Homo sapiens: one gene and its partners. The protein of the gene in region 1 purifies or fractionates together with the protein of each later gene. This does not show direct contact. Each region holds a gene or a part of one and is shown in the gene's direction. Other genes may lie near its edges. The genes, in order: SLC25A46, ADGRG5, DNAJC11, COX15, CHCHD3, SCFD1 and MTCH2.

Region 1 (2,651 bases):
TACATTTGTACATTTCAACATATAATAAGCAAAAAAATTACTAATCAGTTTAATAAAAACATTTTGTCTATTCCTAAATGTAATTTGGTGGGTTAAGCACTTTGTGTAGTAAAATGATATGTGTCTGCTCTATCATTAGACATTTTAAAGTTTCATGTCTTCACGTGAATAATCACAGTTGTATCATGAACCATTTAGCGCTCTGAAGCACAGTGACTTTGCACTGATATTGTCCAACCAAGAATGCATACGAATAGAAATTCATTTTACTTGCTAAATGTCACAGAAATGGTTACTTTTTGCAAATAGTAGTGTTGGAACAAAAAAGTGATATCCAAAAAGTGTAAAAACAGTAATAAGTAGCAAATCTCTCGTGTGTGTGTGTGTGTAGTTACTGAAACACCTACATTTTCCATTTTTAAATTCCACCAAAAGGGGGAAAATAAAATTAAACACCACTGATCACATTTTATATTTTATGGTGACTATTTTAGATTAAGGTTTACTTTGTCCAACCAATAGCATTTAAATTGTTTTCAATTAGGATAGTTTCAGATAAGAGTAAACCAGAAAATTTCAAGTTTGAAAAATTTCTAGAAAAGAATCTGAATAGAATCAAGTATTTACTAGTGAAAATCTGTAGGATCCTTTGTTTAGCTAAAAATTAAATATTTCAGGATATTTTTTGGAAGTTAGCATGAAAATAGTTAGTTACATAAATTCATTTTATTGTAGAATAATTATAAGACTGATAGGCTGAACCATACACAAATAAGGTTGATCTTGTTTTCCTTTTTGGAGAAAGAGAATACAAATTAACATTAAAATTGAAATGTAGAAAGTAAAATATGAATAATTTTTTACAACCACTCCAAATTAGTTGAAACAAAATCTTGAACGGTCACGCACTTAAATTTAAGCTAGCCAAATATGTTGCACTGAATTTTGAAAAGAATGAGTGAGATAACTGTAAGATACGCTCGTTCCCTTTTAAAAATTGTTATTTTTCTTTAACATGGGTGCCAAATCAAATATCCATGGGCTATACTTCTTAAGATAATAACAGCTCAAAATAATATTTTTTAATTCAGTAGAACTAATAGCATTATGGAAAAGATTCTATTAAATGTTCCACAGGCCCACTGGTCCTCTTATATAAGCCAAATTTTGGCCATGGAGCTTGTGATACACTTGCCTTACATTGTAGGGTTTCTTAATTTGAGTCAAGTACACTGAAAGCAATTAAAAACTGGTAAATATTAATTTACTATGTAAAGTGAACTTACGAATTAACTTACTAAATACATATATGTAGACCTTCCCGAAATGCCATTCTCAATTTTATTTTATGGGCTCCAAAAAAAATTATCTGGGTTAATAAGGTTATCTATTAAAGCCCCCAGAATCTCAGCACTAGATGTCATAAATATGAAATAGTAAAAACAAGGTCACTTGAAAATGGGTATTTAATACCTTAGCTGGTGTTTTCAGAAGCATACAGAACTGGAAAGGTAAGAACTTGCTTACTATTGCAGATATACCTGACCACTCACAACTGTCTTTTTAGCAGCAGCTTTGTTAAAACTGCACAAAGCATTCACTTTATTGATTGAGTACAAATGCTTTAGTGTTTCTACCTAAGTATTAGTACATCTGTTCAGGAAATGGAAAAAAAAAATGCTGCTTAAATTTGTTTTATCAGCTGAGGTTGTGGAGGATTTTTGTCCACTGATCTTTTGCAACAGAAAAGCATACTTTGTCAGCTTCTAATAAGATAGCCAGGTTTGAATTATTTGCAAAATTTATATAAGCAAATAAGATCTCTTGGTAACAATTGACATTGCACTAGAATTTGAATGATACTGTTGTTGGCATTTCTGTTTCTCTTTCAAGTAGTTGTAAATAATCTCTTTTTCTCATATAAACGGAATGCATAATGTCTTACTCTTGAGTCATTTAGTATCATTGATATGGTACCAAGTTGTATAGCAGAGTAACAAAATCATGATTTGACAATGAAATTTACATATTGCCTCACCTAGAGATGTTTTGTCTGTATGACTTTTTTTTTTTTAAGTTTGTCTTACTGTTACTTTAAATGTTTTGGGTAAATTGTGTAATATGAAAAGTTCAATAAAATGTCGAAATAAAGCCACTGTTTTTCTCCTACTGATGTGAGAGAACTATTCAGGCTGGTGGTTAAAGATGAAGTATATTTTTTTAGGTAGAAAGGAAGATCAACAAAATATGTGAAGTTAAACTTTTTTGCACACTATTTTTTAAAATCTCTATAGCCTCCTCACCACATCCCTATGACATTTTTGGAGTTGTGCTGTTTGATTAAGAATAAAATAGATACAGAGAGGAGGTGATTTGTCCTGCATTTCACAACTAGGAGAGTAACAACAGAAAAATGACAAATAGGCAGCTCCAGACTCCCATCCCTCCATGGAAAGAGAAGAAAACAACCAGAAACTGTCAGAACCAACTTTGTCAGACTCTGGAAAACAGTCAAAAGTTTACAGCAACTATGTGAATGTTAAATCAAGAAAAAGGCAACTTATTGTTAGGAAAGCTTTGTGGCTTTGACTTACCTTGGCTCCTGTCTTCTCTGTGGTTCAGTGGCATGGCAGTCTTAAAAATGGCAGCTT
Region 2 (3,500 bases), on another chromosome or scaffold:
CCTGGCTTGCCCTATTCTTTCCATAGGATAAATTCATAAGAATGAGTTTCCTGGCTTAAAGGATATTCAGAACGTAAAGTTCGAATGTGTTGCTAAGCCGTCCCCTTGCAGATGAGGCTCAGATCTTAGACAGAGAGTGCAGGAATGTGCCTGTCCCTACAGACTCACTGGGTGCTATCATATTTCAGATCTTTGCAGATCCAATGGTGGAAAAATGAGAACTCATGTTCTTAACTACTTTCCTCTGCCACTACCATCAAACACATATTTTGAGTTTTGTGGCTCTCCCTCTTGAAGCCTTGCAAGTTTTTGTTGACTTCCTTTCTCTAAGAGGAGGATCATCAGTTCTCTTGCCCTCCCTCCCCTATTTCCTCTTCTTCATCCTCTTAATATGTTTTTTGATTGGATTTCTAAAGTCTTGTCTATAGAGGTATACATACAATAAAATTCACCCTTTTGGAGAGGAGTTTTTGCATTTTGACAGATGTGTACAGTCATGTATACATGTATATTACAATCAAAATATAGAACATTGCTGTCCCCTGAAAAGTTGTCTCAGGCCCTTTTGTAGTTAATATCTTTTCCCTACTCCCTGGCAACTACTGATTTGTTCTCTGATCCAATAGTTTTGACTTTTCTAGATTCCACTTCCATGTTACATTCCCTCCAGAAATGAATGAGGCTTCCAGCTGTTCTATATCCTCATAATACTTTGTATTACCATTTTAATCCTAGTCATTCTAGAAGGTGTGTAGTGATATCTGATTGTGGTTTTTATATGCATTTCTCTAATGACTAATGATATTGAGTGTTTCTCATGTGCTTATTTGCATCTATACATTTTTTTTTTTAACATGTAGTTCCAGCTCTGTCACCCAGGCTGAAATGCAGTGGCATGATCTCAGCTCACTGCAGCCTCCTCCTCCTGGGTTGAAGCAATTCTCCTGCCTTAGACTCTTGAGCAGCTAGGATTACAGGCACATGCTACCACACCTGGCTAATTGTTGTATTTTTAGTAGAGACAGGGGTTTCACCATGTTGGCCAGGCTGGTTTCAAACTCCTGACCTTGGGTGACCCACCCGCCTCGGCCTCCCAAAGTGCTGGGATTACAGGCATGAGCCACCGCGCCCGGCCCATCTATATACATCTTCATTGGTATAGTGATTGTTCAAATCTTTTCCTATATTTATTGGGTTGTTTGTCCTCTTATTAGTTGTGTAAGAGTTCTTTATGTAGTCCAGATACAATTTTTTAAAAACATCAGATATGTGTTTGTAAATATTTTCTCCCAGTCTGTGGCTTATCTTCTCGTTTTGCTAACCATGACTTTCAAAAAGCAGAAGTTTTAATTTTGATGAAATTCAACTTATCAGTTTTTTGTTGTTGTTGTTGCCATGGATCACGTTTTTGGTGTTGTTTCTAAGAAATCTTTGCATAACCTAAGTCAGAAGGATTTTCTTTTTTGTTTTTTCCAAGGAGTTTTACAGGCATATCTTGGAGATATTGTGGGTTTGGTTTTAGACCACCACAGTAAAGCAAATATGGTAATAAAGTGAGTCACACAAATTGTTTGGTTTCCCAGTGCATATAAAAGTGATGCTTACGGCCAGGCACGGTGGCTCATGTCTGTAATCCCAGCACTTTGGGAGGCCGAGGCGGGCGGATCATGAGGTCAGGAGATCGAGACCATCCTGGCCAACATGGTGAAACCCCATCTCTACTAAAAATACAAAAATTAGCCGAGCATGGTGGTGTGTGCCTGTAATCCCATCTACTTGGGAGGCTGAGGCAGGAGAATCACTTGAACCTGTGAGGTGGAGGCGGAGGTTGCAGTGAGCTGAGATCGCACCACTGCATTCCAGCCTGGGCAACAGAGCGAGACTGTCTCACACATGAAAAAAGTTATGTTTACATTATACTGTAGTCTATTTAGTGTACAAAAGCATTATGTCTAAAAATGTACATACCTTAGTTAAAGGACACTTTATTGCTAAAAAGTACTAGCAATCTATCTGAGCCTTCAACAAATCACACGCTTTTTTGCTGGTGGAAAGTCTTGCCTTGATGCTGATCAAGGTGGTGGTGGTTGAAGGTTGGGGTGGCTGGCTGTTTCTTAAGACAGCAGTGAAGTTTGCCACATCAGTTGACTCTTCCTTTCATAAGATGTTTTTCTGTAGCATGTGATGCTGTTTGATAGTATTTTACTCACGGTAGAGCTTCATTCAAAATTGGAGTCCGTCCTCTCAAACCCTGCAGGGGCTTTATCCACTACATTTATTTAATATTCTAAATCTTTTGTTGTCATTTCCACAGTGTTCACCATATCTTCACCAGGAGTAGATTCCATTTCAAAAAACCACTCATTGTTCATCTATGAGAAGCGACTCCCCATCCATTCAAGTTTGATCATGAGACTGCAGCAATTCAGTCACATCTTCAGGATCCACTACTAATTCTAGTTCTCTTGCTATTCTAATCACATCTGTAATTACTTTCCCCACTGAAGTTTTGAACCCCTCAAAGTCGTCCATGAAGCATGGAATCAACCTCTTCCAAACTCCTGTTAATGTTGATATTTTGACTTCTTCCCATGAATCACAATCACATGTTCTTGCAGCATCTAGAAGGGTGAATCTTTTCCAGATTTTCAATTTACTTTGCCCTGATCCATCAGAGAAATCACTATCTATGACAGCTATAGCCTTATGAAATTTGTTTCCTAAATAATAAGACTTGAAGGTCGAAATGACTCCTTGATCCATGGGCTGCAGAATGGATGTTGTGTTAGCAGCACGAGAACAACATTGATCTCCTTGTGCATCTCCATCAGAGCTCTTGGGTGACTAGGTACATTGTCGATGAGCAGAAATATTTTGAAATAAATCTTTTTTTTTTTTTGAGTAGTAGGTCTTAACAGTGGGTTTAAAATATTCAGGAAACTATGCTATAAATAGATTGCTATCATCCAGGCTTTGTTATTCCATTTGTAGAGCACAGGCAGAATAGATTTAGCATAACTCTTAAGAGACCTAGGATTTTCAGGATGTTAAATGAGTATTGGCTTCCATTGAAAGTCACCAGCTGCATTACCCGCTAACAAGGGAGTTAGCCTGTCCTTTGAAGCTTTGAAACCAGGCATTGATTTCTTCTCTCTGGCTATGAAACTCTTAGATGGCATCCGCTTCCAATATGAGGCTCTTTCATCTACACTGAAATTCTGTTGTTTAATGTGGCCACCCTCATGCATGATGTTAGCTAGTTCTTGTGGATAACTTGCTTCTCCATCAGCACTTGCTGTTTCACTTTGTACTGCTATGTCATGGAGATGGCTTTTTTCCTGAAACCTCATGAACCAACCTCTGCTAGCTTCCACGTTTTTTCAGCTTCCTCACCCACCTTGGCCTTCATAGAATTGAAGAGTTAGGGCCTTGCTCTGAACTAGGCTTTGGCTTAAGGGAACGTTGGCCGGGGGCTGGTTTGATCTTCTATCCAGATCACT
Region 3 (3,500 bases), on another chromosome or scaffold:
GCACACACCACCACAGCTGGCTGATTTTTGTAGTTTTTGTAGAGACAGGGTCTCACTGTGTTGCCCAGGCTGGTCTCAAACTCCTGAGCTCAAGCAGTCCACCCATCTCAGCCTCCCAAAGTGCTGGGATTACAGGCATGAGCCACTGCACCCAGCCAAAAAATATTTCTTAAATTTTTTTTTTTTTTTTACTTCTCCCAATGAGTGAAGGCACTTTCCATATTTATGGCTATATGGCTATAGGTTAAATCCATATGAAACATGCTCCCTTGCAGAAGTCACTTTCTGTTGTCTTCGTCAGCAAACTCGGTGTTAAATGTCATACTCAGGTGTGGTGTGCTGGTTTTCCATCCCGGGATTCCATTAGAAGCTCTGAAGGTGATGTCTGAACTTGATATTTGCTGGAATTTTTTGTGTGAAATCAAACGTGAAGTTGAAATAACGTGATTTAGTTGGAAAAAAGTCAGAGTAATCTTAAATCTTAATGTGTGGTTGGAAGAATATCTTAATACCTGTTTGTGTGTTTGCTGTCAGTTCTAGAGTAGTTGCCATTTAAGTATAGCTGTGAGAGGCAAGGCCCTGTTCCCACTGATACTTCAAAGTACCTTCAAAAGAGTGTCCTCAAAACTCTCAATGTTCAGTAGAGTTCAGAGAGTTTTCTTTAGAAATCTCAAATGGAAACAATTCTAGACAAAACCAGGGAATCCTACTTTAAAATTATAAGCATAGGCTGGGCGCGTGGCTCAAGCCTGTAATCCCAGCACTTTGGGAGGCCAAGACGGGCGGATCACGAGGTCAGGAGATGGAGACCATCCTGACTAACACGGTGAAACCCCGTCTGTACTAAAAATACAAAAAATTAGCCGGGCGTGGTGGCGGGCGCCTGTAGGAGGCTGAGGCAGGAGAATGGTGTGAACCCAGGAGGCGGAGCTTGCAGTGAGCCGAGATTGCGCCACTGCACTCCAGCCTGGGTGACAGAGCAAGACTCTGTCTCAAAAAAAAAAAAATTATAAGCATAATAGAGGTATATAATTGGATTAATATAGAAATGTCAACAATCAGCTGAAGAATCTCCCTCTCCAGGATTTAAACTTTAAAATATCCCCTTAAATTTGTATTCTAGAGCAGGGGTCCTCAACCCCCTGGCCATGGACCAGTACTGGTCTGTGGCTTGTTAGGAATTGGGCCGCACAGCAGGAGGTGAGTGGTGGGCAAGCAAGCGGTTAGCGTCGGGCAAGCAAGCGGTTAGCATCGGGCAAGCAAGCATCACCGCCTGAGCTCTGCCTGTCAGATTGGTGGTGGCATTAGCTTCTCATAGGAGCATGAACCCTATTGGGAACTGCACATGCAAGGGATCTAGGTTAGGTCCTCTTTATGAGAATTTGACTAATGCCTGATGATCCCAGGTGGAACAGTTTCATTCCACTCCCACTAGTCTGTGGAAAAATTATCTTCCATGAAACCAGTCCGTGGTGCTAAAAGGTTGGAGACCCCATTGTTGCCGCCGTTGGAGAGAGTGAAGCAGGCAGCTGGAAAGGACCCCCCGTTCTCCTATGACAAGACACATGATCTTTAATGATTCTCCTTCTAGATTTCCTGTTTACAGAGCAGGGCCATCATCTGTCGTGCCTGCCTCACACTGAGAGGAGGGAGTACTTTATCACTCACTGGGCACACCAAAGCCAGACAGGTTTTCTGGTTTAGTGTTAGATGCATCATCTGGTTCCTAAAATCTCACTCCTCTGAGATTTCCAGGATGATTTTCCAAAATTTATTTGGAGAAAGGATTCCTTAACTATAAATCAGAGTTAAATTTACCTGATCCATTAATTAGGAAATTTAATTGACACATTTCAAACCTAATTTATTCCCAAGACAAATGGCTACAGTTCTAACTTTATCATTGTCTTTGAAAGAATTTCATTTTTGCAGTGTTTGTAACCTGTTTGAAGACCTCTGGTCCCAATTGTTTTAACCTTAAGGAGCCATCCTCCTTTTCAACTTTTAAACACTTTTGGAAAAACACAGTTAAGTAAAAAATGAAGTTGTTAATAAATAGTTTTTTTCTTGCAGTCCATATATGGAGGTCAGTGTTCTGAGATCTTCATCCTTCCAGAACAGCCATGAAACTAGAAGTACAAAAGTATCACCTACCAGTAAAAAGTTTACCCCAAGTCCCTGCATTTTCATTCCTTCTCTGGTACAGGGTAGATCATTATTTTCACAATTGTGTGTTGTTGGGGTTTCCTTAGCTGCAGGTTACAGCCACAGAGTGAGGCCCAACAGTTGAGTTTGAGCTGCAGATGGAAAGGAAGGGCTAGAAGAGTAGAGGAAGGTCCCCTGGTCACTGGCAAGATTGTCCTAGGGTCAAAGTCACCCACAAAGAAGGAGACAGCAGACCCTCCAATCAGGACCACTGACTCAGCCATCTGCAGAAATTGACATGTAAAAGGCTCAACTGTGCCAATTTGAGCGACTCAAATACCTAAAGCAGTGAGGTGGTGTGTGTTTACACATTTATTGCTTTCTTATCAAACTTCATGATGGGCAGTTAATTTTGTCTTAATAAAAAATAAAGATGGCTCTGAAAAGGTCAGTTCCTTCATTTTCCATCTACTACATTATGTTAAAGTTTGATATTTATAATGACTCCAGTTAAATGTGTGCCTCAGGCACATAGAATTAAGCCTCGGTTGTCCAAAAACAACTTATTCAGATGTCTGCATTCCATAGGGTGTTCTGTAAGCCAAGAGGCTGAGAAGCAAGAATTTCAGCCCATGCTGCCTGCCTCTTGTGTGACCTTCAACGAGTCATTTAACCTCAGCCTCTACTTACCTGCAGAATGGAGGCACCAGTACTTCTTAGTTAACAATGGGATAGAGGGAGGCCACTATGTAGGGCTTTGCAGCTGGAGTCCAGTATTCAAATCCCATTTTACTCTTCTGGAAGTTCTATGCTTCAACGCTAGTAATTTAACCTTTCTGTTTCTCAATTTCTTTTTTTTTTTTTGAGATGGAGTCTCACACTGTCACCCTGGCTGGAGTGCAATGGCGCAATCTCAGCTCACTGCAACCTCCACCTCCTAGGTTCATGCAATTCTCCTGCCTCAGCCTCCCAAGTAGCTGGGATTACAGGCACACACCAGTACACCCGGCTAATTTTTTTTTTTTTTTTTTTTTTTTTTTTTTTAGTAGAGATAGGGTTTCACTATGTTGGCCAGACTGGTCTCAAACTCCTGACGTCGTGATCCATCCGCCTCGGCCTCCCAAAGTGCTGGGATTACAGGCATGAGCCACTGCACCTGGCCATCAGTTTCTTTAATGTTAGAATGTAGGTAACAGGTAATAATGGCTTAAGCACTTACTGTAGGCCAGGATGACCTGTGTGGTATGTGCGTTGCTAGGTGCTGAGAATGTATATAAATTGCCTGTCATAAGTAGGTATTTAGTTAATATATATTGTTATTTCTTGGATTTTGATAAGTTTGAAGTTTTGCTTAC
Region 4 (3,500 bases), on another chromosome or scaffold:
TTGGGAGGCTGAGGCGGGTGGATCATTTGAGGTCAGGAGTTTGAGACCAGCCTGGCCAACATAGTGAAACCCCCATCTCTACTAAAAGTTAAAAAATTAGCTGGGCAATAGTGGCGCGCACCTGTAATCCCAGCTACTTGGGAGGCTGAGGCAGGAGAATCGCTTGAGCCTGGGAGGTGGAGGTTGCAGTGAGCCAAGATTGTGCCACTGCACTCCAGTCTGGGCGACAAAGTGAGAAAAAAAATTTTTTTAATTAAATAAAATTTATTTACATAAGCTTTTTGTTTATTTAAACTTTATATTTAAATAAAATTAATTTTTTATTTAATTTTCAGTCATACTAGCCACATGTTTCAAGCTCTCCTTAGGTAGATGATAGAACTTTTCCATCACAGAAAGTTCTATTGGACAGTGCTGATATACTGTCCTATAATATGTTAGTAATGATACCTAACTTTTCATATAGTAGAGTGTAAGCCATTTGAGGGTGGCATAGTCACCTGTTTATAAAGTTCTTATTCATATTTGATGATTCACTTATTAGTATTAGAAGTTGGTAATAAGAATAAAAACAAATTTTGATTTTATCAAAAACACTAAATGGAGGAATCTCTAAGCACTTTATGCAATTTTGATTCTGACTATATTTGCTAAACACTAATATCACACACATGAAAATCCAGTCCTGATCTTAAGCTACATCCTTTCAACCGTGATGAAGCATTGTTTCCTGAATAATGGAAATCATTCAGTTTTTGAACAGATGCGTAATGAGTACCTATGTGCCAATCACTAGGCTAAGATTGCTCTAGTAAAAAAGATGGCAGTTCCTGCCTTCACAAAACTTATGGGGTAGAAGGGAAAACAGATAGTAATCTATAATTATAATAAAATACAGTACATGTTGGAACAGAATATCTGCCAGGAGTACTTAACCTAGTCTAGGGGTCAGAGAAGATCTGATCTTAATTTGTCACTTGGGTTTGGCCTTAGAGATCTTTGCTGCCTCTCATTGTTCCTGCAACACAGTTTAACTGAATGATTTTTTTTCATATTTAGTTGCCTGAAACCCACCAACTCCTACAGTTGAGACGATTTGCTCATGGAACAGCAGGTCTGGTGTTCCTTACGGCCCTCTCAGGTAGGACTCAGCTCATCAAAGATGACCTGTTTGCATTGCACTCTAAGCTGGGACCTCTTGCCTAATGCTTTGCCCCTTCCTCCTGCATCTTTATATTTCCTTTTCACATCTGTTTCTCTCATTCCCCCATCTTCACCCTGTTTCCTGTTCCTTTCTCTCTTCCAAAAATTCTACTTTACTGTCAATTGAACAAAAATATTGAACATCTACCTAGATCCAGATGGCCTAGGTTCAAATCCTGGCTTCACTACCTGTGAACTATATGACCTTTGCAAGCTCTGTAACCTCTCTGGGCCTTAGAGACCTTATCTATAAAATGGAGATTACGACAACAGTATGACTGCTAAATGTGAAATGTGTAGCATCGTTGTTGGCATGTAGCAAAGGCTACATAAGTGTTAGCTGTTACTATATATAAACATTGTTATCATCACATTACATCAACATGGGTCAGAGAAAAGGCTTGCCCTCAGAGATGGTTGCAGGTGGAGAGTTCATTGGCACAGAGAGACCAACACAGGATTTTTTCATTCTTTTTTTTGAGACTGAGTCTCACTCTGTTGCCCAGGCTGGAGTGCAGTGGCATGATCTCAGCTCACTGCAACCTCTGCCTCCCTAAATCCAAGCGATTCTCGTGCCTCAGCCTCCCGAGTAGCTAAGACTACAGGTGCACACCACCACGCCCAGCTGATTTTTGTATTTTTAGTAGAGATGGGGTTTCACCATGTTGGCCAGGCTGGCCTCGAACTTCTGACCTCAGGTGATCCACCCGCCTTAGCCTCCCAAAGTGCTGGGATTACAGGCATGAGCTACCATGCCTGGCCGTTTTCATTCTTTAACCCACACTTCCACCACTGCTGCTCTCATTCTAGAACTGCACTATCCAGTAGAGGAGCCTGTAGCCTCATGTGGATATTTAAACTTAAATTAATTAAGGTTAAATAAAATTTAAAATTTAGTTCTTCAGTCACACTAGCAACATTTCAGATGCTCCACAGGCACATGTGGCTAGGGGCTAGTATATTGGTTGGCACAAATATAGAATACTTCCACTCTCACAGAAAGTTCTATTGATAGTACTGCTCTGGACTAAAAATAATATTGATTCAAACCAATGAGCCACTCAACACTTTTATTTTTGGCATAAGAGCATGAATTTTTACTTCATAAGGGACATTTAAAAAAAATATGGAGTGGGTTGGGCATGGTGGCTCACACCTGTAATTCCAGCACTTTGGGATGCTGAGGCAGGTAGATTGCTTGAGCCAGGGAGTTCAAGACCAGCCTGGGCAACATGGTGAAACCTCGTCTCTACAAAAAATACAAAAATTAGCCATGTGTGGTGGTATTCACCTGTAGTCTCAGCTACTCAGGGGGCTGAGGCGGGAGGATTGCTTGAGCCCAGGAGGTCGAGGCTGCAGTGAGCGGAGATTGCGCTGCTGCACTCCAGCCTGGGTGACAGAGCAAGACCCTGACTCAAAAAAAGAAAAAAAGGCCAGGCATGGTGGCTTATGCCTGTAATCCCAGCACTTTGGGAGGCCGAGGCAGGCGGATCACCTGAGGTTGGGAGTTCGAGACCAGCCTGGTCAACGTGGTGAAACCTCGTCTCTACCAAAGGGCGCACCTATAGTCCCAGCTACTCGGGAGGCTGAGGCAGAAGAATTGCATGAACCCTGGAGGCAGAGGTTGCAGTGAGCCGAGATCATGCCACTGCACTCCAGCCTGGGGGACAGAGCCAGACTGCGTCTCAAAAAAAAAAAGAAAGAAAAAAGCGAGTGTGACCCAAACATTTCTGGATTTTCTTTGATAATAAATAATGGATCAGACATCCATTAATTCATGAATACCCTCTTTATTTGTTTATCCAGGATTTAGTTTATAAGTTTTGGGATTTTTCTCACTTCCGTATTCAGTCAACAAACATTTATTGAGCATTTGGGGAAGACAGATAACGCACAATAGAAACATAATGTGCTAGATGATATTTAGTGCCATGAAGAAAAATAAATTAGGGTCAGGAGACAGAAAGTGGGCTAGGATCATCAAGCGAAATCTCTTTGGTAAGGTGACATCTGAGTGGAAGCTGAGGAAATAAGGGAGTCAGTCATGCAGACATCTGTGGGAGAGCATTTCTAAAATAAATCAGTAGCACTCAGTGGCGGGGTGAGGAGGGCATCAAAATCACTAAGGGAATTTTTCTAAGCTAATAAGCCTCTCCCCCTCCCCCCACACCACAGCCTCTACTCCACTTCTCTAGAGGAAGCAGAATCTTGGGGTGGGAGCAGGTAAGGATGCAGAGATTTGAAGTTTCCTTGGTGATTGTGATGTATCTTCTCTGTTGGAGAACTCCTGTTGCAGA
Region 5 (3,500 bases), on another chromosome or scaffold:
GATTGAAGTGTGTACAAAAAGAATTTCAGAGGATGACTGCACACACACACACACACACACACACACACACACACACACACACAGAACAGATCACCAAACAGGAAATCAAGAGCCCTGGAAGTGAGTAGTATTGATTTGTGGTGATAAAAGTATATTTTGACACATTTCAAATCATAAATAACGCATGGACTTTAACTTGCATGACTAATAGCTCAACCCAGGATACATGCTTATCTACAACTTAAACTACCTCTTTCTAAGGAGTCCATAACATGAGGTGAATTATCCCATCGTGAGTAGACTTTTTAAAGGAAAAAATAAACTGTCTTCTTTATGACATGCAGTGTGTGGATGCTCATTTTTACAGTCTTTTCCCGTATGTTAATGAGGAAGGGCTGCATATCTGGTCAGGGTTGTTCTAGCCTTCCCTCCTCACCTCCTTCCCCCTGCTTTTAAATCTGAGACACATTGGAGACACGATCAGTTGTCAACACTAGGATAGAATGTAACCTTGCTTTCCTATGAGCTATTAGTCATTAGTCATGTATTTGCTAGGTTCAGCTGATCTGATGCTTAATCATATTTTATTCGATATTTATCTAGATGCAGGTCTTGCTATAATTAGTCACTTAGTGGTATCTGTGCCTATACTCTTTGAAGCACGGCTGATTCCTTTTAAATCCTGATGTTCGTGGTAAAGGATTAGGGAAATCTGTGTCCAGAAAAATTCACAGACATCTGAAGTTTGAAATCTTAAAGCATGGAAACTCCTGGGATTCTATTTAATTCTGTTCTTAGGTATTTGACAAAGCAGTAAGGTAATGAATGAAAAAGTAAAAGTGATGTTATAGAAAAATTGTTGAAACATTTTTTTTTCTCTGTATGTCTGTGTTCTTTAGAGGATAGTAGGAAGTCAGGGAACCACCAACATGCTTTGCATTTCTATTCTAGTAAAATATATATTAGCTTAGTGTACTGGATAAAAATAATGAGACAAATCATCACCCAGGCGTTTCCTTATTGATGAGAAATATTCCCCCTGTGTTCTCTAGGGGTTTTGTTTGAACCCATTAAATTTAAAATAATGTGATTTCAAGATTACTATGGAAATAACAAATTTAAATTTCAAAAATAGAAGTGATAAGACTGGAAGCTTCTTGTATTAAGACTAATTTGAAAAAACACGAATTTCAAGATTAAAAGTAGTAATATTGTGCTTTTTTTCTCTGTATGTATTTAATCCTTGCAGTCCAAACTTCCCTGCCGTATTAATCAGAATATTTTACCTTCATTCGTATAACTCATTTGGTTCATTATCATTTTTCAAGCATATATTATAAGGTTTTTGGAAACATTTACATTTGGTCTCACATATTCACAGAAGCAATCTGACTAAAATCTGAGATTTGTAAGTATAAGTAGCAAAATTTTAACCCAGGGGACTTTAAAATGTTTTCTTTGCACCGATTTGTATTCATTCAGTAAATGTATTACATGACTTCTGTAGGGTTCCGATGTCTAATAGCTGAGGTAACAAAGAAAATAAGTCACAGTCCTTGGAATTTACATTCTAGTAAATGTAGGTTGCTAAATTGTATTAGACTATGGTGTAGTCAGTGTCACATGCATGGCAAGAAAAGTGAATACGGGACCAATGGGGTCACCATAAAGGGAATGATAGACTGTACCAGGGTTGGGGGGTGGAGAGCTAATGAAAGCTGACACTTGAGTGAAGTATCAAAGGATGAGTAGGTTTTTTCCAGATATAGAGGCATAGGTGGGAGTTTGGGCGTAGAGCATTTCCAGAAGCAAGAGCAGCATGAGCTTAGACTTGAAGAGAAGTGTAAGAACGAAACCCTGAATTGGGTTTGTCCAGGCTTCAGCTGTGTGCAGGGTTGGGGGGTGAAGGCCACAGAGTAGGCAGGAACCTGGTCAAGAAGGACCAGCCAGCTGGCCTTGTATTTTGTGTAGAAAGTGCTGGGAAAAGAGACCATCTTCGATTTCCTATGGGAAAGAACCCTCTGGAAGGTGTGTGCAGGCAGGAGTAGAGGGTGTCAAAGCTGAGAGACCAGCTGGGAGGTTGTTTCTTGAATTCAGGATGTGGCTCACTTGGAAGCAATGTAACGACAGTGAGTGTGGAGCAGGAGGACCAGGCCGTAGGGATCTCCAACTTTGTGACCAAGTGGATATGGGAATGGAAGAGAGAACTTAGGGCTTCCAAGTTTCTGGCATGTTGATATGGTTTCGGTTTGGAAGGGATGGTTATATTGTCCAGACTAACTCACAGTAGTGTCAATTAGTGGAACTAATTTCTTAGAATTTATTTACCCTTTGTCATTTTTATCATGGGAAAAATTTAGCTATCTTTGAAGTTTAAGGAAAATTCTTTCTCTTAAACCTTTTTCTACATTTGCAACATCTGTGTCTTACTGTGCGTTTTATGTGTTCTTTAACCTTGATTTTTATTCTGAATGAAGACCATTGGTCTCAGCGGTCCCTGTGTTTGTTTTCAGGCGATATGAGTCTCATCCAGTCTGTGCTGATCTGCAGGCCAAAATTCTTCAGTGTTACCGTGAGAACACCCACCAGACCCTCAAATGCTCCGCTCTGGCCACCCAGTATATGCACTGTGTCAATCATGCCAAACAGGTAGGTGTGCCAGCCAGGCCACTGGGGGCACTGGGCAAATTGAAAACTGGATGACCTGGGGCAGTGGTAAGGACTAAATGGGCCACTGTGTGTGAAAAAGCTTTCTAAGCCCTAGTCATCATCATCAAGAATTACTGTAATGAGTTGATTAGGGCATAACTTGTGTCCGATCATTGTCAAAGAGCCCATATCTTCCTTATGTACAACTCATTTACTTGCAGAAAAAAGGATTCTACTACAATTATACTTTTTTCCACTTGCCCTGAACTTTTGTCTTCTAATAATAATGTTCCCAAGGTCATTCCTCATACTTTTAGGCCAATATTTAGAGCTAGCGAAGAGGATACAGATTAAGAGCTGGCACCTTTGGGCCCATAAGCCGTAGGTAGGCAGAGGGCCAGGTTAAAAAAAAAACAAAACACCACCGTTCAGTCACTGTCCAACGCTTCCACCAGTTGATAGAGTTCACTTAGTTGGACAGGGAAAGGGAAACCAGAGATAGCATTTTAAAAAGAATTTCCACTGCTTTTATAGACCATAGCCATATTCTTCTCTTGACCCTTCATATCAGAACAATATGATGTTCACAGGACGTGCATTTTCTCTAATTTATGTACTTTAGAAAGCTAATGATAAACCCTGAAGCAAATTATCAATTCTGGCAGGTCACATAATTGCCTATCATTTAACCAATTTAACAGTTGGATATGGTTGTTCTGAGAGGCAGAAATTGTTGGAAACGTTGATTCCTTCTGCTGACAAACTCCATAGATTTGACCTTCTAACCCAACTAAATCTAGTGTTTAAGTTACACAGCATGCCTTTCTGCAGTCTAATTTGATGTAGTTATA
Region 6 (3,500 bases), on another chromosome or scaffold:
TGTTTTTGATTTTGGAATATTTGCATTATTACTGGTTGAGCATCCCAAATTTCAAAATCCGAGCACCAGCTTAAAAAATTTTGATTTTGGAGCATTTCAGGTTTCAGATATTAAGACTTGGGATGCTCAACCTGTAGTATATTTAGAGCCAATAAGAAAAATGGTTTGTCATTTCAGATAAAGTCATGGTTTAAGCCTTGGGTAAACTCTGATAAAAGTAAAATTACGTTCTTGTAAACTCTGAACACAGGCCGTGTACTCCATTAACAAATCCTTTTTGTTATAGGTATAGGTATACCTATATAGGTATAGGTATATAGGCATATAGGTATACCTATATAGGTATAGGTATATAGGCATATAGGTATACCTATATAGGTATAGGTATATAGGTATATAGGTATATAGGTATATCAATAGGTATATTGATATAGGTAAAAGGTATATCAAAATACCTTTTAATAAGTTAGCCAAGGCTCAAAGTTGGAGAAAATCTCAGACTGGGCTGAGAAGGCGAATGTAGGATTATCTTATTTGCTGCTGCTGGCCTCTTTCAGTTAGCTAAGGCCTAACTGTGCAGCATACTAAACACCTGAGGCTCACATGGCAGCTCAGGCTTTCGTTCTTCCAAGTTGTCAGGCTTCAAGAGTGTGAACAGCTGTTCCCAGAAACAGGGTTTCCTCCCTCTTGGGCGTGAGTGCCAGGGTGGTGGTGTCTTTATTGCCTGGAGGTGGAGGAAGAGCTCTGCAAATGCACAGTGGGAGAGTTAATCCTGAAACCCCCTCCGTGCTTCCTGTGTTATTTCAGTTTTAAGTGTTAAACTGTTTTTTTGTTTATATTAAATATATTTAATATTATAAATACATTAAATAAAATACATTTTTATTTAATGTAAAACCTGTGGGCCTCTGAAGTAGGTAATATTGGTAATGTGTATTTTTGGCTGGACATTAGGTAATAACATTTTACCAAAAATTATGTCTGTAGGTGTATGGTAAATACACCTGATAGCAATAACTTAAGCGTGCCCTGAGAATGACCCTGTATTGCAGACACACCTGGATATGTGTTTCAAGCTAGGGAATCAAAATGGCCCACCTGGAGATTCATTCCTTGTCTGTGAGGAACATCTGAGCCCCCAGCCCATCCAGTGAAACATAGGCCATGCAGTGGATCAAGGCCCCGAGTTTTGGGTTGAATGAAGGTTGCCAGGTGGAGGTTGTTAGGGAAATGTTAAGTGAAAATGCTGTATAAACCACATTTTTGCTATATAAACCACTTTTTGCATGCAGTTATGGTTCTCCTGCCCAGCGCATTGCCACTGAGTATACAGTTCTCCTGTCCAGCCCACTGTCACTGGACTCTCCTATGTGTGTTGCCCCCATTAAAACCCTGTGTCTCATTTCCTGGCTCCGGGTCTCTTCTTAGGCCTCTCAAACATGGGTATCTTCCCCACTGGAGGCAATAAGGGTTCGGCACAACAGTATGTACACACACATAAGTATGCAAATGTATCACTGAAGTACAATCTGTTCAGTAATAGCAGTTTTAACAGCATTATACCTACCTCAGCAAGCAAGCATTTAATAGAAGTTTTTCTTGTGAGTGAATGAATATGCTGTAAGTTGATATTCAGGTGATTTTAGTATTACATAGTTCTCTCGTAGGACTTTGGAGTATAGGTTATTCTGTATTACTTAAAGCCTGATGCAAATGTTTTTAACAATCAACCAAGTGGATTTTAAGGCTGTCAATTTTATAAAAATTAAATCAAGAAATTACAACTAGTATACTCTCTTGAATATTTGGCCATCTCAGTTTCACGAAGAAGTATATTAAGGGATTTTCATTTTCTGTAACACTGTTACAGATGAGTGATAAATAACACAAAATACTGTAACAGACCCGTAACTGTGATTTTTGATGTTGTATATTTGCTTAGCTGGAATTATCAGTTATCTACTATATGGGAAAGTCTGTTTTCCCAAGGGACATAGAATTTTAAGCAACTTTTCGGTGAATCTGACAGGATAAATTGTTTGTAAAATATACTCTTACATAACTATAGACAGATCTGTATGAAGGTTTTGTATATGAACCAATTGAATATGCCATGGATAATTTTGTTTTTAGAAAGACTGATCCAGGCCGGGCGTGGTGGCTCACGCCTGTAATCCCAGCACTTTGGGAGGCCAAGGCGGGTGGATCACCTGAGGTCGGGAGTTCTAGACCAGCCTGACCAACACGGAGAAACCTCATCTCTACTAGAAATACAAAATTAGCCGGGCATGGCAGCGCATGCCTGTAATCCCAGCTACTCGGGAGGCTGAAGCAGAACTGCTTGAACCTGGGAGGCAGAGGTTGTGGTGAGCCGAGATCACGCCATTGCACTCCAGCCTGGGCAACAAGAGCGAAACTCTGTCTCAGAAAAAAAAAAAAAAAAAAAAAAGAAAGACTGATCTTTCTCACTAGGCCACTCACACTTAAAAAAAAAAACAGACAGACAGACTGATCCTTCTCACTAGACCACTCAGACTTAAAAAAAAAAAAAAAAAAGACTTACCTTAATCTATGCTTTCAGCCAGACAGTACACAGGCAACAGCATCAGTATATTGAGGCCATTGCAAGTTCTTCCTGAACATTTCCCGCGATTTCATCTGTGGACAGATGCTTATTGTGTTTTGGGAAATCTCCCAAATACATGTCAATTAGCTGTCGATGGAATAGTCTTACAAGATCTGACCCCTAGTTCTACACATATAGTCATTTGGTTAATCAGTTTTACTAGAGTTGATTAGTTTATTTTGCTTTGGGGTAGTGAATGATGATGGAGGAAAAATAAAATCCTAAAAAACAATGACAATATTTGATAAAACTTTTTATTTTCAGTGGCTTTGAAGCGTATGTTGAATTTCAATGTGCCTCATATTAAAAACAGCACAGGAGAACCAGTATGGAAGGTAAGAGTTTATCTTAATGGGAACTGATTTCTGTTTTTCTCAGCCCTTATTGGTGGTAATTGGAGGGAATTTATTGTAATATGGAAGAAGTAACACATATTAGTTATCATGAATGTTTTATCCTTATTTAACATGATCTCTTAATATGAATTGTTTTGACAGACATTCTATGGAGTGAGACAAGTGATAAAATAGTAATTTTCATCTAGGGAGTCCAGTTGATCTCTTTGGTAGGATGTCACTGATAGGTCTTTTTCCTGGTTGATATTTTGTTCCTTAGCTTTTCAAGTCCAGACTTTGGATTTTATAAGCTTGCTCGGAGTTAGTCACATTCAGAGGGCCTGGATTATTTTAACAAACTCATGAGAAAATGATCTGTAAACTGTAATACCACTTTAATAATTTATGAGATATAAAACTTAATTGAACCAGAAAGCAATCTACAATCTTTTCCTTTGAGAAATACTGGAGAGCCTTTAAAAATTCCAATTCTTTAGGCTTCTTCATTTTAAACTTCATGCAGACTCTCTTTCTTCAGA
Region 7 (3,500 bases), on another chromosome or scaffold:
TTTTTTAAAAAGGGGGGGAGGAAAAGTATAATTGATACCATTAGAAGATTCCTAATTTTTTTCTTTGTATGCCCTATGCAGCAGCAGCCTCAATTTGTATTTATTTATTAATTATTATTATTATTTTTTTTTTTTTTGAGATGGAGTCTTGCTATGTTGCCCAGGCTGGAGTGCAGTAGCATGATCTCGGCTCACTGCGACCTCCACCTCCTGGATTCAAGTGATTGTCCCGCCTCAGCCTCCTGAGTAGCTGGGATTACAGGCATTCGCCACCATGCCCAGCTAATATTTTTGTATTTTTGGTAGAGACAGGGTTTCACCATGTTGGCCAGGCTGGTCTCGAACTCCTGACCTCAAGTGATCCACCCGCCTCAGTCTCCCAAAGTGCTGGGATTACAGGCATGAACCACCATGCCAGGCCAATTACTATTATTATTTATAGTTTTTGTTTTTGTTTTTGTTTTTGTTTTTTGAGACAGAATCTCACTCTGTCACCCAGGCTGGAGTGCAGTGGTGCAGTCTCGCTCCATTGCAACAGACACCTCCTGGATTCAAGCAGTTCTCATGCCTCAGCTTCCCAAGAAGTTGTGATTACAGGCATGTGCCACCATGCTGGGCTAATTTTTGCATTTTTAGTAGAGATGGGGTCTTGCTATGTTGGCCAGACTGGTCCTGAACTCCTGACCTCCGGTGATCTGCCTACCTCGGACTTCCAAAGCGCTGGAATTAAAGGCGTGAGCCACTGCACCTGGCCTATTTTTATTTATTTTTAATTTTTTTAGAGATAGGGCTGCAATGTGGTGGTGAAGTCCTAGCTCACTGCAGCCTTGAACTCCTGAGCTCAAGGGATCCTCCCATCTCAGCTTCCCAAGTAGTTGGGAGTACATGTGCATGCCACCATGCCTGGCTAATTATTTTTTGTGAAGACACAGGGTCTCACTTTGTTGCCCAGGCTGTTCTTAAATTTCTAGGCTCAAGTGATTCTCCTTCCTCAGCCTCTTAAAGTGCTGGGATTACAGGGGTGAGCCACCATGCCCAGCCAACATATTGTTATTTTAAATCTTTATCTTTTCTATGAAAGTGACAAAAGGTATATCAGGGATTAAATGACAATCCATACCTGTTTTTCCTAGGGGCTTTATGGAGAAAGTGAGTTTTAAAGAACCAGAATTAGGATATTTAGTCTATGGAAAGTTTGATGACCTTTTCTCTGTATTGGTTAGAAGGGCAGGTTTTGGTATAGTGGTAGACTCCATTGATTTCCAAATTCTAGATGCCAAGTGACTCTACTGAGTTGGGCAAAATTTTGCCTTTTTTTTTTTTTTTTTGAGATGGAGTCTCACTCTGTTGCCCAGGCTATAGTGCAGTGGTGCAATCTCGACTCACTGCAACCTCCACCTCCCAGGTTCAAGCAATTCTCCTGCCTCAGCCTCCTGAGTAGCTGGGATTACAGGTGCCCACCAGCATGCCTGGCTAATTTTTTGTATTTTTTTGTTGTTGTTATTGTTGAGACAGAGTCTTGCTCTGTTGCTCAGGCTGGATTGTGGTGGCGCGATCTTGGTTCACTGCATCCTCCACCTCCTGGGTTCAAGTACTTCTCCTGCCTCAGCCTCCAGAGTAGCTGGGATTATAGGCACTTGCCACCACCCCCGGCTAATTTCTGTATTTCTAGTAGAGACAGTGTTTCACCATGTTGGCCAGGCTGGTCTCGAACTCCTGACCTCAAGTGGTCCACCCTCCTCGACCTCCTAAAGTGCTGGGATTACAGGCGTGAGCCACTGCACCCAGCCTTGCCTTTTTTGTTTAATTCAAAATTCTTTTCCCATATGGTACCTGACATATCATTAAACATGTTACTGTTTTCAAATAAGATCAGATAGCTATGTGGAGTTTTGAACATTTTACATTGTTTGTTTTCTGGTTTTGTTTGTTTCATGTTACTCCTGGCAAGCTGTGATGTTTTCTGATACGTAGAGCAACTGCCATTTTTTAGCACAGTGTAAACTTGAAGGATGAATTAAATGTATTATTATTATTTACAGTTTTTTCAAGATGAAGTGATTATACCTAAGTAGGAACATATATATCTACTGTTTATATCCGTTTTCATGTTTAGTATCTTTGTGAACACCAGTTAGTTTTTAAATCTCCTTTCCCTGCTCTTTTTTTTTTTTTTTTTTTTTAAAAAAAGACTGGTTCTTACTCTGTCACCCAGGCTGGAGTGCAGTAGTGCAATCTTGGCTCACTGCAACTTCCGCCTCCTGGGTTGAAGCAATTCACATGCCTTAGCCTCCCAAGTAGCCGGGATTACAGGCATGCGCCACCATGCCAGCTCATGTTTTTGTATTTTCAGTAGAGATGGGGTTTCACCATGTTGGCCAGGCTGGTCTTGAACTCCTGACCTCAAATGATCCACCTGCCTTGGCCTCCCAAAGTGCTGGAATTACAGGTGTGAGCCACCGTGCCCGGCCACCTTTCCCTGCTCTTTAATCATGTAAATGCTGTGTTCTGGAGTTTCATTTGTCCACAAAGGAAAAGTCTAAATGTTTTAGAAATTAAGGTTGAAGTTTATGTTTATTTATTTATTTGAAACCTAAATATAGGGGAGGAATTCTCTTTTGGATGCTTGATCGTTCCCCTGCTTCAATATGATTTGTTTCATTGAACTAAAATGATCTCTCAGGGAATCTTCTGTGCAGCAGAATATTTTGACAAGGTTTATCAACGTCTCAAGAGAATGGTTAATATTAACATGAATAGCTCCATGTTTTTTTCTATTTTAGTCTTGCTGGTGGATGCCCTCCTTACTCCCCAATATATACGTCTTGGATAGACTGTTGGTGCATGCTACAAAAAGAGGTATTTCTTTTTCTCTGTCTCTCTCATTTTATTTTGTTTTATTTTTATTTATTTGTTTTCTTAAATATTGTCTCTGGAATCCCAAGTTAACTCTTGTAGCTCACTTTAGCTAGAGTTAGTCTAGTCTGCCAGTTAATGTACACTTTACAGTGTTCTGTGTTTTCACTTTGGCATAATAGTAAAATGTGATGTTTAGAAATCATGAGCAGGAGTAATGAAGAAGAAAGAATCCCTAGATGAGACCTAGAAGCCATTTGAGTGCCCACATTCAACTTACAAATACGATCCAGGTAGATTATTATCCTGGTAAAATGATGGCCTTGATTTTAGACTCTTTTTTTCCCCCAAACTCACCTTTCATAACCACTTATTTGTCACAGTGGTATTGACAGAGCTGGTCTTATACTTCTAGAGTCTTGTTAGTGGATGATTTTGCCTAGATACCAATTTAGGGTTTGTTATTACTATGAGGTGTATAATCTGCAACAAAAAATTATTTATTATCTAGGCAAAGCTTTATTGGAAAATAAAATAATGGGCTGGGTGCAGTGGCTCACGCTTATAATTCTAGCACTTCGAGAGGTCTAGGTGGGCAAATTGCTTGAGCCTAGGAGTTTGAGACCAGTTGAGGCAACATGATG

What was found.
Region 2: the proteins of SLC25A46 (region 1) and ADGRG5 purify together in Homo sapiens (co-immunoprecipitation; one large-scale study listed by IntAct). This does not show direct contact.
Region 3: the proteins of SLC25A46 (region 1) and DNAJC11 purify together in Homo sapiens (affinity purification with mass spectrometry, with the first as the bait; one large-scale study listed by BioGRID). This does not show direct contact.
Region 4: the proteins of SLC25A46 (region 1) and COX15 purify together in Homo sapiens (affinity purification with mass spectrometry; one large-scale study listed by BioGRID and IntAct). This does not show direct contact.
Region 5: the proteins of SLC25A46 (region 1) and CHCHD3 purify together in Homo sapiens (affinity purification with western blotting; one large-scale study listed by BioGRID). This does not show direct contact.
Region 6: the proteins of SLC25A46 (region 1) and SCFD1 fractionate together in Homo sapiens (co-fractionation; one large-scale study listed by BioGRID). This does not show direct contact.
Region 7: the proteins of SLC25A46 (region 1) and MTCH2 purify together in Homo sapiens (affinity purification with western blotting; one large-scale study listed by BioGRID). This does not show direct contact.

The regions. Positions count from the first base shown.
Region 1 is NC_000005.10:110,763,007-110,765,657, forward strand, and holds the end of SLC25A46 (mitochondrial outer membrane protein SLC25A46), read left to right. Parts: 3' UTR 1-2,151; downstream 2,152-2,651. UniProt on the Homo sapiens protein: Transmembrane protein of the mitochondrial outer membrane that controls mitochondrial organization.
Region 2 is NC_000016.10:57,549,143-57,552,642, forward strand, and holds part of ADGRG5 (adhesion G-protein coupled receptor G5 isoform 1 precursor), read left to right. Parts: intron 1-3,500. UniProt on the Homo sapiens protein: Orphan adhesion G-protein coupled receptor (aGPCR). Ligand binding causes a conformation change that triggers signaling via guanine nucleotide-binding proteins (G proteins) and modulates the activity of downstream effectors, such as adenylate cyclase.
Region 3 is NC_000001.11:6,695,317-6,698,816, reverse strand, and holds part of DNAJC11 (dnaJ homolog subfamily C member 11), read left to right. Parts: intron 1-3,500.
Region 4 is NC_000010.11:99,718,628-99,722,127, reverse strand, and holds part of COX15 (heme A synthase COX15), read left to right. Parts: intron 1-1,059; coding exon 1,060-1,141; intron 1,142-3,500. UniProt on the Homo sapiens protein: Catalyzes the second reaction in the biosynthesis of heme A, a prosthetic group of mitochondrial cytochrome c oxidase (CcO). Heme A is synthesized from heme B by two sequential enzymatic reactions catalyzed by heme O synthase (HOS) and heme A synthase (HAS).
Region 5 is NC_000007.14:132,795,591-132,799,090, reverse strand, and holds part of CHCHD3 (MICOS complex subunit MIC19), read left to right. Parts: intron 1-2,513; coding exon 2,514-2,649; intron 2,650-3,500. UniProt on the Homo sapiens protein: Component of the MICOS complex, a large protein complex of the mitochondrial inner membrane that plays crucial roles in the maintenance of crista junctions, inner membrane architecture, and formation of contact sites to the outer membrane.
Region 6 is NC_000014.9:30,625,319-30,628,818, forward strand, and holds part of SCFD1 (sec1 family domain-containing protein 1), read left to right. Parts: intron 1-2,890; coding exon 2,891-2,961; intron 2,962-3,500. UniProt on the Homo sapiens protein: Plays a role in SNARE-pin assembly and Golgi-to-ER retrograde transport via its interaction with COG4. Involved in vesicular transport between the endoplasmic reticulum and the Golgi.
Region 7 is NC_000011.10:47,622,060-47,625,559, reverse strand, and holds part of MTCH2 (mitochondrial carrier homolog 2), read left to right. Parts: intron 1-2,783; coding exon 2,784-2,859; intron 2,860-3,500. UniProt on the Homo sapiens protein: Protein insertase that mediates insertion of transmembrane proteins into the mitochondrial outer membrane. Catalyzes insertion of proteins with alpha-helical transmembrane regions, such as signal-anchored, tail-anchored and multi-pass membrane proteins.